Linked DNA regions of Homo sapiens. The protein of the gene in region 1 purifies or fractionates together with the protein of each later gene. This does not show direct contact. Each region holds a gene or a part of one and is shown in the gene's direction. Other genes may lie near its edges.

Region 1 (7,048 bases):
AACCAGACCTCAGTTTCTCCTGGTCATTCCTCTTCAACTGTGCTTCTGTTGGTGTCTCAGCATCGTGAGGACAGAAGCCCAAAACCTGACTCCCTTCCCCAGACCTGTACATTCGGGCAGCGCGTACATTCTGTCTCCCTCTCTCTCTGCGCCCAGAGCCTCAGCTCAGCTGCCTCCTTGGAGGCAGCTACCTACCTCTCCAGTCCTGTCCTGGGGCCATCGTGGGTGTGGGACAGGACCTGTGACTCTTTCCCTTTCTTGTCTAGTCCCCCGCCACACACTCACTCCCATGGTTTGTAGCCCAAGAGTCTCTGGTAGGGCTGCGATAAGGTTGTGTGGTCCTGGATGATTTTACTTAGAACCTGGGTTTCCCCTGGAGAAAGGCTGGCCAGGGTGGCATCTGAATGGGACTGCAGCCTGCTGACAGGAGGCCTGGCCACCTGTCCTGGGGAGCAGCACTGGGCTTTTTTTTTTTTTTAAGATAGGGTCTCACTCTGTGGCCCAGGCTGGGGTGCAGTGGCACTATCACGGCTCACTGCAGCCTTGAACTCCTGGGCTTAAGCGATCCTCCCACCTCAGCCTTCTGAGTAGCTGGGACCACAGGTGTGTGACTCCACGGGGCCTGAGCACCAGGCTGGATGCAGCTTTCTCTTGTAGCTTGACAGGAGCCAGGGAGGGGGATCCCACCTGGAGCTGGTATACCCAACACAGCTGTGGAAAAGTTGACCACAGGCGGCCCCTTCCGCCTGATTGGATTATTGTATGATCATTCATTAAACTGTTTCTCTGTTGTTTTTTTGAAACAGAGTCTCACTCTGTCGCCCAGGCTGGAGTGCAGGGGCGAGATACCGCTCACTGCAACCTCCACCTCCCGAGTTCAAGCAGTTCTCCTGCCTCTGCCTCAGTAGCTGGGACTACAGGCAGGCGCCGCCACACCTGGCTAATTTTTGTATTTTTAGTAGAGACAAGGTTTCACCATGTTGGCCAGGCTTGTCTCGGACTCCTGGCCTCAAGTGATCCGCCCACCTCGGTCTCCCAAAGTGCTAGGATTACAGATATGAGCCACTGTGTCCAGCCTGCTTTTTTTTTTTTTTTTTTGAGATGGAGTCTCATTCCATCACCCAGGCTGGAGTGCAGTGGCACAATCTTGGCTCACTGCAACCTCCGGCTCCTGGGTTCAAGTGATTCTCCTGCCTCAGCCTCCTGAGTAGCTGGCATTACAGGCACCCACCACCACGCCCAGCTAATTTTTGTATTTTTAGTAGAGACGGGGGTTTCACTATGTTGGTCAGGCTGGTCTGGAACTCCTGACCTCAAGTGATCCACCCACCTTGGCCTCCCAAAGTGCTGAGATTACAGGCAGGAGCCACTGCGCCCGGCCTTGTTTTGCTTTCACAAGGCTTTATCTTTTGAGCAGTTTTAGGTTTACAGAAAAATCCAACAGAATGTCCAAAGAGTTGCCATGCCCCTCCTCTCCCATCTGGCACACAGTTTTCTATTCTTCACGTCCTGCATTAGTGTGGAGCATCTGTCACAATTGACAGGATGTTGATACATTATTATTAATAAATGCATGGTTTACCTTCCGGTTCCCTCTTGGTGGTGTACATTCTCTGTGATTACAGTATCATAAGAGTAGTTTCACTGCCCTAACATTTTTCTGTGTTCCCCCCTACTCATCTCACCCTCTTCCTACCAAACCCCTGGCAACCACTGATCTTTTACTGTCCCCTTAGTTTTGCCTTTTCCAGAACGGTCTATAGTTGGAATCAGACAGTATGTAGCCTTTTCAGATTGGCTTCTTTCACTTAGTGCAATATACATTTAAGGTTCCTCTGTGTCTTTTCACAGCTTGAGAGCATATTTCTTGCTTGTTTTTTAAATTATTTTATTTTATTTTATTTGAGATGGAGTCTCGCTCTGTCACCCAGACTGGAGTGCTGTGGCATAATCTTGGCTCACTGCAGCCTCTTCCTCCTGGGTTCAAGCAATTCTTGTGCCTCAGCCTTCTGAGGAGCTGGGACTAAAGGCACACACCACCATGCGCAGCTAACTTTTGCATTTTTAGTAGAGATGAGGTTTCACCATTTTGGCCAGGCTGGTCTCGAACTCCTGACCTCAGGTGATCTGCCCGCCTCAGCCTCCCAAAGTACTGGGATTACAGGCGTGAACCACCGCGCCCAGCCTGTTTTTTAAATAGGGTGCTGTGTTGCCCAGGTTGGTCTTAAAACTCATGACCTCAAGCAATCCTCCCTCCTCAGCCTCCTAAAGTGGCTGAGAGCTCATTTTTTTTTCAGCACTGAATAATATTCTGTTGTCTGGATATACCACACTTTTATCACCTGCTGTTTCTTTGTTTTTTATGATTATTATAAAAGAGATAGCTAATCATCATTAAATGTATATCAACCGAAAAGAGAACATTTAAAAAAATCCCTGAGTCCCTCTGTGGGGCATTTCATTCTATGTTCTACTATGTTCTTTAAATTTTTTTTCTTGTACATTCTTTCTAGTCCAAATCATATTCTTCTGGAAACAGAAAAGGCTTTCTGTCCGGCTTGCTAGATAATGTCAAACAAGAATTAGCCAAAAACAAAGAAATGAAAGAAAGTATAAAAAAATTCCGTGACGAGGCCAGAAGGCTAGAAGAATCAGACGTGCTCCAGGAGGCCAGAAGGAAATACGTGAGTTTCTTTGCTGCTTTTTTTTCCCTCACCCAGGCTGGAGAGTAGTGGTGCGATCTCGGCTCACTGCAACCTCCACCTCCCAGGTTCAAGTGATTCCCCTGCCTCAGCCTCCTGAGTAGCTGGGCTTACAGGCGCGCACCACCACGCCCAGCTAATTTTTGTATTTTTAGTAGTGAAGAGGTTTCACCATGTTGGCCAGGCTGGTCTCGAACTCCTGACCTCAAGTGATCCGCCCGCCTCAGCCTTCCAAAGTGCTGGGATTACAGGCGTGAGCCACCGCGTTGGGCCCCTTTGCTTCTTACCTTTCTTGGTTGACATGTTTGTTTCCAGGGCCAGGGTTTCTCCAGGCCAGGGACAGCCAGAGGAGCTCAGGGCTGGACGGTTGGGGGCAGGGTGGCTCGTGAGGAAGTGAGGTCACTGCTCTGATGCACTAATGAGAGGGAGCCAGGGGACAGGTGCGGGTCTCCAGGCCTCTGGGTTCTGCCATGAGACCATGCAGCGTTCTGTGCAGCTTGAAGCGTGGTCCCCAGACCAGCAGCAGTGGCTCCTCCTGGGAGTGGATGAGCAGTGCAGAGGCTCACACCCTCCCAAACTGCCAGGCCAGCGCCCGCATCTTCACAGGCCCCCAGGCAACGCATGCACACCAGCTATGGGATGCAGCGCTCCTGAGAGCTCCCAGCTGTAGCCCTCTGAGTGGAGCCTGGTGGAAACTGGGTGATGGTGCTGGTATTTTATTTTATTTTATTTTATTTTATGAGATGGAGTCTTGCTCTGTCATCCAGGCTGGAGTGCAGTGGCGTGACCTTGGCTCACTGCAACCTCCAGCTCCTGATTCTCCTGCCTCAGCCTCCCGGATAGCTGGGATTACAGGCGCCCGCCACCACACCCAGCTGATTTGTTGTTGTTGTTGTTGTTGTTTTTTGAAGCAGAGTCTTACTCCATTGCCCAGGCTGGAGTGCAGTGGTACGATTTTGGCTCAACACAACCTCTGCCTCCTAGGCTCAAGCGATTCTCCTGCCTCAGCCTCCCGAGTAGCTGGGATTACAGACACACACCACTACTGCCCAGCTAATTTTTGTATTTTTAGTAAAGACAGGGTTTCACCATGTTGGCCAGGCTGGCCTTGAACTCCTGACCTCAAATGATCCACCTGCCTTGGCCTTCCAAAGTGCTGAGATTACAGGTGTGAGCCAGTGCGCCCAGCCCTATATATCTTTTTATAGAGACGGGGTTTCACCATGTTGGCCAGGCTGGTCTCAAACTCCTGGCCTCAAGTGATCTGCCCGTCTCAGCTTCCCAAAGTGCTGGGATTACAGGTGTGAGCCACTGCTCCCAGCCTGTCATTATTAATTGTCACTTCTCTTCTTGAGCAGCTGCCAAGCCCTGGCTTCTGGGAATGGCTCTGCATTCCTTTATTTGTAAGGGCCCTGCGAGGCAGTTACAGTGTCCCCATTTTACCAATGAGCAGCTGAGCCTCAGAGATGCAGGCACCTGCCACGGGTCCCTTGCATTTTGGTTTGGTTTGGTTTCATTTGTGTTTTTTTGTTTGTTCGTTTTTTGTTTTTCTCCTTTGAGATGGAGTCTTGCTCTGTCAGCCAGGCTGGAGTGCAATGGTGCGATCTCGGCTCACTGCAACCTCCGCCTCCCTGGGTTCAAGCGATTCTCCTGCCTCAGCCTTCCAAATAGCTGGAATTATAGGCGCCCACCACCACGCCAGGCTAATTTTTGTATTTTTAGTGGAGACGGGGTTTCATCACTTTGGCCAGGCTGGTGTTGAACTCCTGACCTCAGGTGATCCATCCGCCTTGGCCTCCCAGAGTGCTGGGATTACAGGCATGAGCCACCGTGCCCAGCCTAGTTTGGTTTTTTGAGACAGGGTCTTGCTCTGTCACCCTGGCTGGAGTGCAGTGGTGTGATCACAGCTCACTGCAGTTTTGACCTTCCCATGTTCAGGTGATTCTCCCACCTCAGCCTCCTGAGTAGCTGTGACTAAAGGCATGGGATACCACGCCTGGCTAATTTTTTTATATTTCTAGAGACAGGGTCTCGCCATGTTGCCTGTGCTGGTCTCGAACTCTCTGGGCTCAAGCGATCCTCCCATCTCAGCTTCCCAAAGAGCTGGGACTACAGCTCACATGCCCAGCCCCTCTTTATCATTAATGCAGGGGTCATCTGAAGACATAGCAGGCTGAGTTTGGAGTGGGATGGATGGAGCGGGAGACATAAGACCAAGCTGTGGTGGCTGGAGGCTGGATGAGGGGCACAGTGATGACAGGCAAGGCCACCTCCTACCACCCGGTGAAAGGTGAAGGCTGGGCCTCCTGTTCTCAGGAGGTAGCTGCCAAGCGGGGACCCGAGTCTGCCGGCCTTCTGAGCAAGGAGCTCACCGCTGCTGAGACCCTCAATCCAAGCCATGTGGGCAGCCGGGGGCCCTGGAGGCAGCACATGCTGGCAGGTGCGGGGAGGGAGGGGCTGCGGAGAAGATGCTTCTTGGACCTTTGGCTGTAAGAGAAATGTCACTGCCGTGTCAGAACATACAGACTTAAAGACACAACGGTTGGCCAGGCACAGTGGCTCACACCTATAATCCCAGCACTTTGGGAGGCCGAGGCGGGTGGATCACTTGAGGTCAGAAGTTTGAGACCAGCCTGGCCAACGTGGTAAAACCCTGTCTCTACTGAAAATACAAAAATTAGCCAGGCATGGTGGTGGGCCCTGTAGTCCCAGCTACTCGGGAGGCTGGGGCAGGAAAATCGCTTGAATCTGGCAGGAGGAAGTTGCAGTGAGCCGAGAGCGTGCCACTGTACTCCAGCCTCGGCAACGGAGACATTGTCTCAAAAAAAAAAAAAAAAAAAAGGACACAGCGCTCTTTACCTAGAAAACCATCGAGTCAGAAACCGTGCGGACGAGCGAGGTGCTACGGAAGAAGCTTGGGGAGCTGACGGGCACCGTGAAGGAGGTAACAGTTCCACGCCCGCCTGGAGCCGCTGGGGCCATCAAAGTCCCCTGGCCGCTGGAGGCTGGAGGAAGAGTCGGCTCCTGGGTGGGGGTGGCTTGGCAGCAGTGGGTGGCATGGGGCGTGCTGCCACCCTCGGGAAGGTTTCAGGAGTTCCCGGCACATGCAGGGTGAGGTCAGACTGGCAACCTTGCATGACCGTTGACCCAGGGAGTCGGCAGCAGTAAGTGCTGCTAGCCAGGACTCGAGGAGAACATGAAAATGTTTTTCCTGCCTAAAAATAGGAGGAGAGGGGCCGCTTCCACCCCCTCCCGAGGGTAGAGGCGGGAGGCAGGATTCCTGGGGTGCTGCGGCTCTCCTCGGTTGTCTGTTCTGTCCAGCTTTGCGCAGCATGGGGCGCCCTCACCGCCGTTCTTTCCCCGGGGTCCCCTCCTTGGGAATCCTTGCTGCCAGGCAGTTCCCGGGTCTCCAGAGGACTCCTGCCCATTTTGGAAAGGGGCCAGCAGACCCAGCGTCTCACCCAGAGCCCAGGGCCAGCATCCCGGAAGCCGTGGCGGTGTGCTCATGGCTCTGGGGGTGCCGGTGTGCTCATGGCTCTGGGGGTGCCGGTGTGCTCGTGGCTCTGGGGGTGGCGGTGTGCTCGTGGCTCTGGGGGTGCCGTTGTGCTCATGGCTCTGGGGGTGCCGCGTACCACAGGAGCACAGAAGGCCTCTGCCGGCCTCGGGGAACCAGATCCGCCCTTCTCTCCGGCAGGAATTCATTCCTCCTGCCCCGCCCCCCGGCCGCCAGGGCCGGTGCCAACGCCCCCTCTCTGTGTCTGTCTCAGTAGAGCCTTCACGAAGTCAGTAAAAGTGATCTCGGCCGGAAAATCAAGGAGGGCGTGGAGGAAGCAGCCAAGACGGCCAAGCAGTCGGCCGAGTCGGTATCCAAAGGCGGGGAGAAGCTGGGCAGGACAGCGGCCTTCAGAGCCCTCTCCCAGGTGAGCCCAGTCCTGGGCTAGGGCATGCAGCCTGGGGCGGCCGAACCCAGACACCCACCCCAGCCCCGCTGTGCCTCCCTCGCAGGGGGTGGAGTCCGTGAAGAAGGAAATTGACGACAGCGTCCTGGGACAGACCGGGCCCTACCGGAGGCCCCAGCGACTCCGGAAGAGAACGGAGTTTGCGGGAGATAAGTTCAAGGAGGAGAAAGTGTTTGAGCCAAACGAGTAGGTACCAGCCCGTGGCCCTCGCTGCCCCCATTTTGGGCAGCTTTCACTGCTGTCCATTTCGGGAGCCCACCAATGGTTCCCTCCTGAGTCCGTTTCTTGAGTTTGCCTTCTGCCCAAGGTTCCCGGCTCCCTCGAATTTGAGGGTGAGAGGTGAGGGCGGGGTCCTCAGAGCCCCTAGGTTTGAGGTCTCAGCTGCCT
Region 2 (7,020 bases), on another chromosome or scaffold:
AAGTATTTACTCTTAAGCACTTTCAAAATGCTATTTAAATACTCTTGCCTCAACAAGATTTTCTAGATTCAAATTAAGTATTCTGCCAAAAGCTGAATATGCCTGACAGAACTCTTAATGTATGGGAAATATTATTTTAATGAAATATTAACTAACCTACTTGTATTAAGGGAAAGATTAAATATATATCTGGATCCATATTTTTATGTGATAACTTTCTCCCCTTTTGTAAAAACCAAGATTCCCCCATTTTGTCTGATAGTTTACCAAGAAGAAGTTGACTCTACAATGTTTTCATGTTTAGGGTCACCCTGGAAAACCCGGACGACCTGGTGAGAGAGGAGTTGTTGGACCACAGGTGAGACTTTTTACATTGGTAGATAGCACAAACATCATAGGCCTATAAGATAGTTGCTAAAACTAGCATCAATCTAAATGACAACATAGATGTCACCCAAACTCATAACATGAATCGAAGGCATCTAATAAAGAAAAAAGCCTAGTTAAAAAAAAATGCATATACATTTTATTCATGCAAATAATGGAATATAAATGACAGCAAGCATACCATAAGCAACTAAATTGTGTTTTCTACAAATACCGTATTATTAGTTACTCACATTAGAGCAAGTTAATTTGTCACTCTGTGCTTAGAGGTATACTAGACTTTGGTTCAAAGCTTGAACTTTGATGAGAATAAATACTTTGGAGGGAAGAAGTCACTGTCTTTTTATTTATGGTAAAACATTATTCACCATCTTCTGTATTTCTTTCTAAGGGTGCTCGTGGTTTCCCTGGAACTCCTGGACTTCCTGGCTTCAAAGGCATTAGGGTGAGCACATTCTTTACTCAGAAGAGAGAAAATGCCTATTAATTTTTGGAAAAAACTCAAGTATGTTTAAAATCTTGGGTGACATATACTCACTTTCAAATCCCTGGAGTTTGCCAAAGGGAAGAAAGAGTTAAAGAGTCAGATTTCTTGAAAGTAAAGTGGGGTGCAATTTTTTCAGTCTGTTCATAGCTACCAAAAAACAGGCTCACTACAGAGAAAATTATATAGAACATGTATTACTTATTGAGTATTTACAACCGTCTGAAAATCATAAAATTATTAAGGATGGAAAAGATGTGAGAGAACACCTAGTCCTCCATCCTTCTCTCTCAATGGCAAGAAAGTTAAGTGACCTATCTAGGGCAATAGACTGAGTTTGCTGGGACCTGGAACACTGGACTTCTTTCTACTGCAGCAGACAAGACTTACCCAAGAGAGATTAATGGCAAAGATATACAATACAATTTTTATTTGACCAAACACTATCATGGAACAGCATTTTATAATAAGGCTTTCCTTTCAGGGACACAATGGTCTGGATGGATTGAAGGGACAGCCCGGTGCTCCTGGTGTGAAGGTAAATATTAAATTAGAAGCACTGTTTTTAAGCACTTGATTGAAATTCCCCATGACCTCCAAAAAAGTATATTATACTGAAGACTACCCATATTACAAAAAGTATTTTTATTTTTTTTCTTTCCTGTACTTCAAATCCCTCAAGGATGGGGACTATGAGAGTCTGTGAAAAAAGGTCAATTATTAATATTTATTAAAATTCAATATCTATTAAACAATTGAGATAAAAATAATATTAATAGTTTCTTGTTCCATTTCCTTTCCTCCCTCTATAATTCCAGTGTATCTCTGCAGCCAAAATAAAAGTAAATAAACATATAATCAGAGATTACGACACTCTGTATTATTTTAAACTGTAAATTCTCCTTTGCCACACACTAATTAGATAGGTACATTCATGTCGCTATACACTTTTCAACCTCTTTCCTGTGATTTATCTGTGCACACTCAAAAAAATTTTAATTAGGTAATTAAAGTCTCAGAAGTGTGTTATCTCTTGGCTAGGCTCTTCTCTGACAGCGTTTTCAACTATAAAATGTTCTCTTTCCTATTAAGGAGATAATGTGATATTAAAGTGAATACCAACGTAATTACAAATTAATGAGTAACGAATACTAGCGGGACCAGAAATGAACATGAATATGGAGAATCTATTCTAACTTTCCAGCTGCCACACAAATGGATAAGGTCAAACTCATTCTCCCAAGAGCCCGATATAACAGCTCAGACTACTAATCACTGTATCATAAAATGTTAGAGCTGCAAGGAGCTTTGGAGACCCCCTCATTTTGCAGAGGTGGGAAACTGAGGCTTCGTGAGAGCAATTGACTTGCCCAAAGTCACACATCTAGAGGTTAGAAAGTCATAGGCTAGAAATGATCCCCCCTTGCCACTTCAATGCTTATTCCCAAAGAATAGACTTCACATAGAATCCTGGAAATTAAGGGTCCTTATGAGGTCTCTTAAACCATATTTCCCCTATATCTAAATCAGATTATCTTTAAAAAAAGTTCTTTTACATGTGCCATAGTATTAAATCCCACTACTACTACTACTACTACCCTGGTTTTTACTCAGGATAAGAATATAGATTGGAAATAAATATGATGGCTCTAAAAAATACCATGAAGCTTCAATTTTTCATGCACATTTTATGAAAGTGATAACACTGAGTGTTCAAAATAACTTTAAAAAGGATAAATATGGTTACATTGAAAGCAAATTTATCCTTTGCCATCTCTTTTTATGATATTGTTTCTAGTATATAATTGATATCCTGAATCTAAGGGAGAAATTGGGGAGGAGGTACACTCAAATAACCACATCTCCTTAGAACCTGGATATGTGGTACTATCTGAATAAAAACTCATGTTAGCACATTTTAAAATCTGTGTGTCTGGCATAATTGAAAAACAATCTATATGTGTAAGAAATATTATGAAGTATATGAATGGTTCAAAGTAAAAAAAATAGAGTAAAATTGCACTATCAGGAAAAATAATTGTTATATTTAATGAACAAAAACTCAATCCTTCTCCATGTAGGGTGAACCTGGTGCCCCTGGTGAAAATGGAACTCCAGGTCAAACAGTAAGTATTGACTACTTCATTGTAAATTTAAATGTGTACACTCTTTATGAGATGGAACTTCTTTAATGTTTTTGCTAATCACTGTATCCTTCAGCATTGTATTCTTTGATGTTTTTCTAATAGCCTTCTGATACTTAATTGAAATCCACTACTGTTTAGTTGGAATTAGAAGGCAACTTATTTATTTTTAGTGTATTCTTGTACAGGTTGGAAACTGAACAAAGCAAATGATGCCTGTGACTTTTTTTAAATTAGCATTCTGGATTTTATTGAAAATATTTCTGCTTCTAGGGAGCCCGTGGGCTTCCTGGTGAGAGAGGACGTGTTGGTGCCCCTGGCCCAGCTGTAAGTGCTTCCATTTTTGTTCAGTTTCATCCTTTTAAAAAATCTTCTAATGGCTGTCATTTAAGTTTCCACCTGATCTTCCCTTTATTTTCTTCTTAGGGTGCCCGTGGCAGTGATGGAAGTGTGGGTCCCGTGGGTCCTGCTGTAAGTTTTGACACTGGGGAGTTTGAAAGGAGTTGAGAATGTGGGGTGGGTGCTGTCTTCTTCATTAATCTCTTACGAAATAGCATCATTTCAGACACTTTACCAAATGTTCTGTGAGGTCTTTTGAAGGCTCCATTTATAAGTAGTGTAAGCCATTTATAAGTACCTGAACTTTTGATTGATGTATAAAGCAAAATATCCCCACCCTGGATACCATGAATGTCTTGCCTTTGATGAGATCCTAACGACAACAGACTGGTTGTCAGTTTTTTTCTTTACTAATATAAACAGTGTCATGCCACTGTAAGCAACTTCAATCTTCTGCCATTGTTATTGTTTTCTTAATTTACTTGGAGGAAATTTCTTACCACCTTCTGCTTTGATTTCAGGGTCCCATTGGGTCTGCTGGCCCTCCAGGCTTCCCAGGTGCCCCTGGCCCCAAGGTAAAAACACTGGTGACCATTGTCACTACTTTGATAAACTTTTTACTGTGATGTGAAAGATTGGAACTGTGTTTGCAGATAAAGAGATAATTACGAAACAGTTACCTTAATTATTCCTTCCCTTCAAAATGGACATAGAATGACCAGTTTTCTCACTCTACATTTGAAATAGATCATTTCTCTGCACTGTGCACTGTGCCCATCGATATAGATGACAACATGGAAATTGTCTCTAGGACTAGTTAGTTAGGACTGACTGAGAACCAGAGTCAACCACAGAGAGACAGAAGGAGAGGGAAGGTAGTAACAGTAGCCAAGATGGCAGAATCAAGCAAGGAAAATAGGAAACCAAACTCAAATCTTGTAATAAAACGGATAAGAAAAATAATTGCAATTTTGAAGTTTTATGAAGACATTTCATAAAACTTGGCATCTTAAAAACAGATATGCTGTTTCATTATTTGCTGGTTAATTCCTTGGTTTAATTTCCTCTTTTAGGGTGAAATTGGAGCTGTTGGTAACGCTGGTCCTGCTGGTCCCGCCGGTCCCCGTGGTGAAGTGGGTCTTCCAGGCCTCTCCGGCCCCGTTGGACCTCCTGTAAGTAGCCACTGTCTTTAAACTTTATTGAGTAAAAGAAAACAAAGGTGGAGTATGGGGAAGAAGAAGAATGAAGATGGGGTCAAAGAAGAACCGAAATATTCCAATTAACTGATATCCTTCTCCTTTCCTTTTCCTCATAGGGTAATCCTGGAGCAAACGGCCTTACTGGTGCCAAGGGTGCTGCTGTGAGTATACCTGCGTAGCTAAAATGTGCTGCTATGATTTTAAAGGCATTTAATGTGTGCTGCCTCTACAGCCCATCACCTCCCTAATGGACCACACTGCATTTTCCTTCACAGGGCCTTCCCGGCGTTGCTGGGGCTCCCGGCCTCCCTGGACCCCGCGGTATTCCTGGCCCTGTTGGTGCTGCCGGTGCTACTGGTGCCAGAGGACTTGTTGTAAGTGGTCATGACTGTGGTTCTCATCATCCTGAAATACCACCTCTGCCATCATTTCATCACTATCTAGACTTCCACTTGTAGTTTTATTATTCCTATTTTTCTCTTCCTTAGCATTTTTAGTTTATATTTCTTATATATATATGTACACTCCCGTCTGCTATATGCACACAGACATGCCCTTCCTGTTATCTTAAATCATTACCTCAAGGTAAATGAGGCAAAGTTCTACAATATCAGTTTTGTCCCTTCGACCAATAATACCATTCCCCTGTACTCAATTTAAATATGAACAGGGTACATTTCCTAGAGAACTTGAGCTTCTCTTTACCTTGACCCACAAATATTCTAAGAGATTTGTCTGCAAGAGAGTTTCAACAAATGTTTGTCCTTTGACCACTGTTCTGTATTGAACCCTAGGGTGAGCCTGGTCCAGCTGGCTCCAAAGGAGAGAGCGGTAACAAGGGTGAGCCCGTAAGTAGCTCTATCATCACACTTTTATAAAGTTAATTGTTTTTCTCATTCCAGTTTCTCCAGCTGGACATAGTATTAAAATTATTTTTTTACTCCCTCTTCTTTTGTTCTTTTCATTAAACAGGGCTCTGCTGGGCCCCAAGGTCCTCCTGGTCCCAGTGGTGAAGAAGGAAAGAGAGGCCCTAATGGGGAAGCTGGATCTGCCGGCCCTCCAGGACCTCCTGGGCTGAGAGTAGGTTTCAAATGCTCCCAACACCCTAACACACCAGAGGCAGATTATGATACCCCTTCACTGGGAATTGGTCAAAATTACTGACTGTGTTTTCTTAGGCAAAAAAAGCATCTGCTTTCCATCTGCCTTATTAAATCAGTGACTCTCAATTTAATATGTTATAAAATTGGCCTGGAAACAATGTTGACCTACTTTTGCAGGATGCTCATCTATGAATTCCTCTAGGGGTTGGGTGAAGTGTTTTGGCTTGGTTTGTGTCTGTATCTCCCCTGTAAGGAGATCATGCTATTTTTTACAAACTCTACCTTATCAAAGCCAAGAGATTTCTTTAATTCTCTCTATTTCATGTACTTTCTTGCAGGGTAGTCCTGGTTCTCGTGGTCTTCCTGGAGCTGATGGCAGAGCTGGCGTCATGGTAAGCTGTCTATCACTTACTTCCTAGAAAGGGGCTTGCTGCTTCTGGTGGTGGGTGTGTCATTAGCTTTAGCATCCTCCTCCTCTATCTGTTTTTTTTTTTTTTTTGAATAGGGCCCTCCTGGTAGTCGTGGTGCAAGTGGCCCTGCTGGAGTCCGAGGACCTAATGGAGATGCTGGTCGCCCTGGGGAGCCTGGTCTCATGGGACCCAGAGTAAGTTTCAAACTGATTCTGAGCAAATCACACCTGGCATTACTTCCTTCTTTAAAGGGTTGGTTAATATTGAAGATAACAATAAAAACATCAAAAGTAAATTTGTTAGTAGTCTTGCTGACAGTTGCATTTTTGACTTTATCAAAGCTCAGTAGATATTTTCATGCATTTAATTAGTTCATAAATTTTCTATTTATTACTTGATACAATGGCTATGAGGTTTTTGGAAGAATAGATCTATTTTAATATATCCAAATTAGATTGGTCCTCCTATCAGCATGAATCTTTTATCTTAATTTGTGAGTTTTATATAAGGTGTTCATGAAATATATTAGGACTATACATTTTTGGTTTATTAGATTCATAAGTGAAGTCTTTTTCCTAGCAATCACAAAGTGCTGTAATGTATTCAGCATCACACTAGCTATGGAGAAATAACCTCTAGGTCCATAGACACACTAATCCATAGCAATAGAGTAATTTTTTTGCCTCCATTGCCTCTTATGGGTGAATATCAACTGTAATTGTACCATAAACAAGTAATAGGGACACCAAATATAGCAATAAGAAATCCACTTTGGAAATTGTTTACTAAAAGTATTAGTTTTTCTATTATGAGGTAAATAACGTGATACATTTTGCCCATATACATGTTGCTTAACAGTTTCTTGAGATATCTATAAAAGGATGAGTTGCACTAAATTTCAATAAAAGGAAAGCCACAAAAAAATAGAAGAAAAATTTCAGAACTCTTTTCACA

The links. Proteins that work in one complex are often made in the same cells at the same time.
Region 2: the proteins of TIMM44 (region 1) and COL1A2 purify together in Homo sapiens (affinity purification with mass spectrometry; 2 studies listed by BioGRID and IntAct, with this or other methods). This does not show direct contact.

The regions. Positions count from the first base shown.
Region 1 is NC_000019.10:7,933,663-7,940,710, reverse strand, and holds part of TIMM44 (mitochondrial import inner membrane translocase subunit TIM44), read left to right. Parts: intron 1-2,513; coding exon 2,514-2,684; intron 2,685-5,565; coding exon 5,566-5,646; intron 5,647-6,472; coding exon 6,473-6,622; intron 6,623-6,707; coding exon 6,708-6,847; intron 6,848-7,048. UniProt on the Homo sapiens protein: Essential component of the PAM complex, a complex required for the translocation of transit peptide-containing proteins from the inner membrane into the mitochondrial matrix in an ATP-dependent manner.
Region 2 is NC_000007.14:94,404,895-94,411,914, forward strand, and holds part of COL1A2 (collagen alpha-2(I) chain precursor), read left to right. Parts: intron 1-304; coding exon 305-358; intron 359-778; coding exon 779-832; intron 833-1,355; coding exon 1,356-1,409; intron 1,410-2,952; coding exon 2,953-2,997; intron 2,998-3,288; coding exon 3,289-3,342; intron 3,343-3,441; coding exon 3,442-3,486; intron 3,487-3,875; coding exon 3,876-3,929; intron 3,930-4,427; coding exon 4,428-4,526; intron 4,527-4,669; coding exon 4,670-4,714; intron 4,715-4,828; coding exon 4,829-4,927; intron 4,928-5,347; coding exon 5,348-5,401; intron 5,402-5,525; coding exon 5,526-5,633; intron 5,634-5,994; coding exon 5,995-6,048; intron 6,049-6,161; coding exon 6,162-6,260; intron 6,261-7,020. UniProt on the Homo sapiens protein: Type I collagen is a member of group I collagen (fibrillar forming collagen).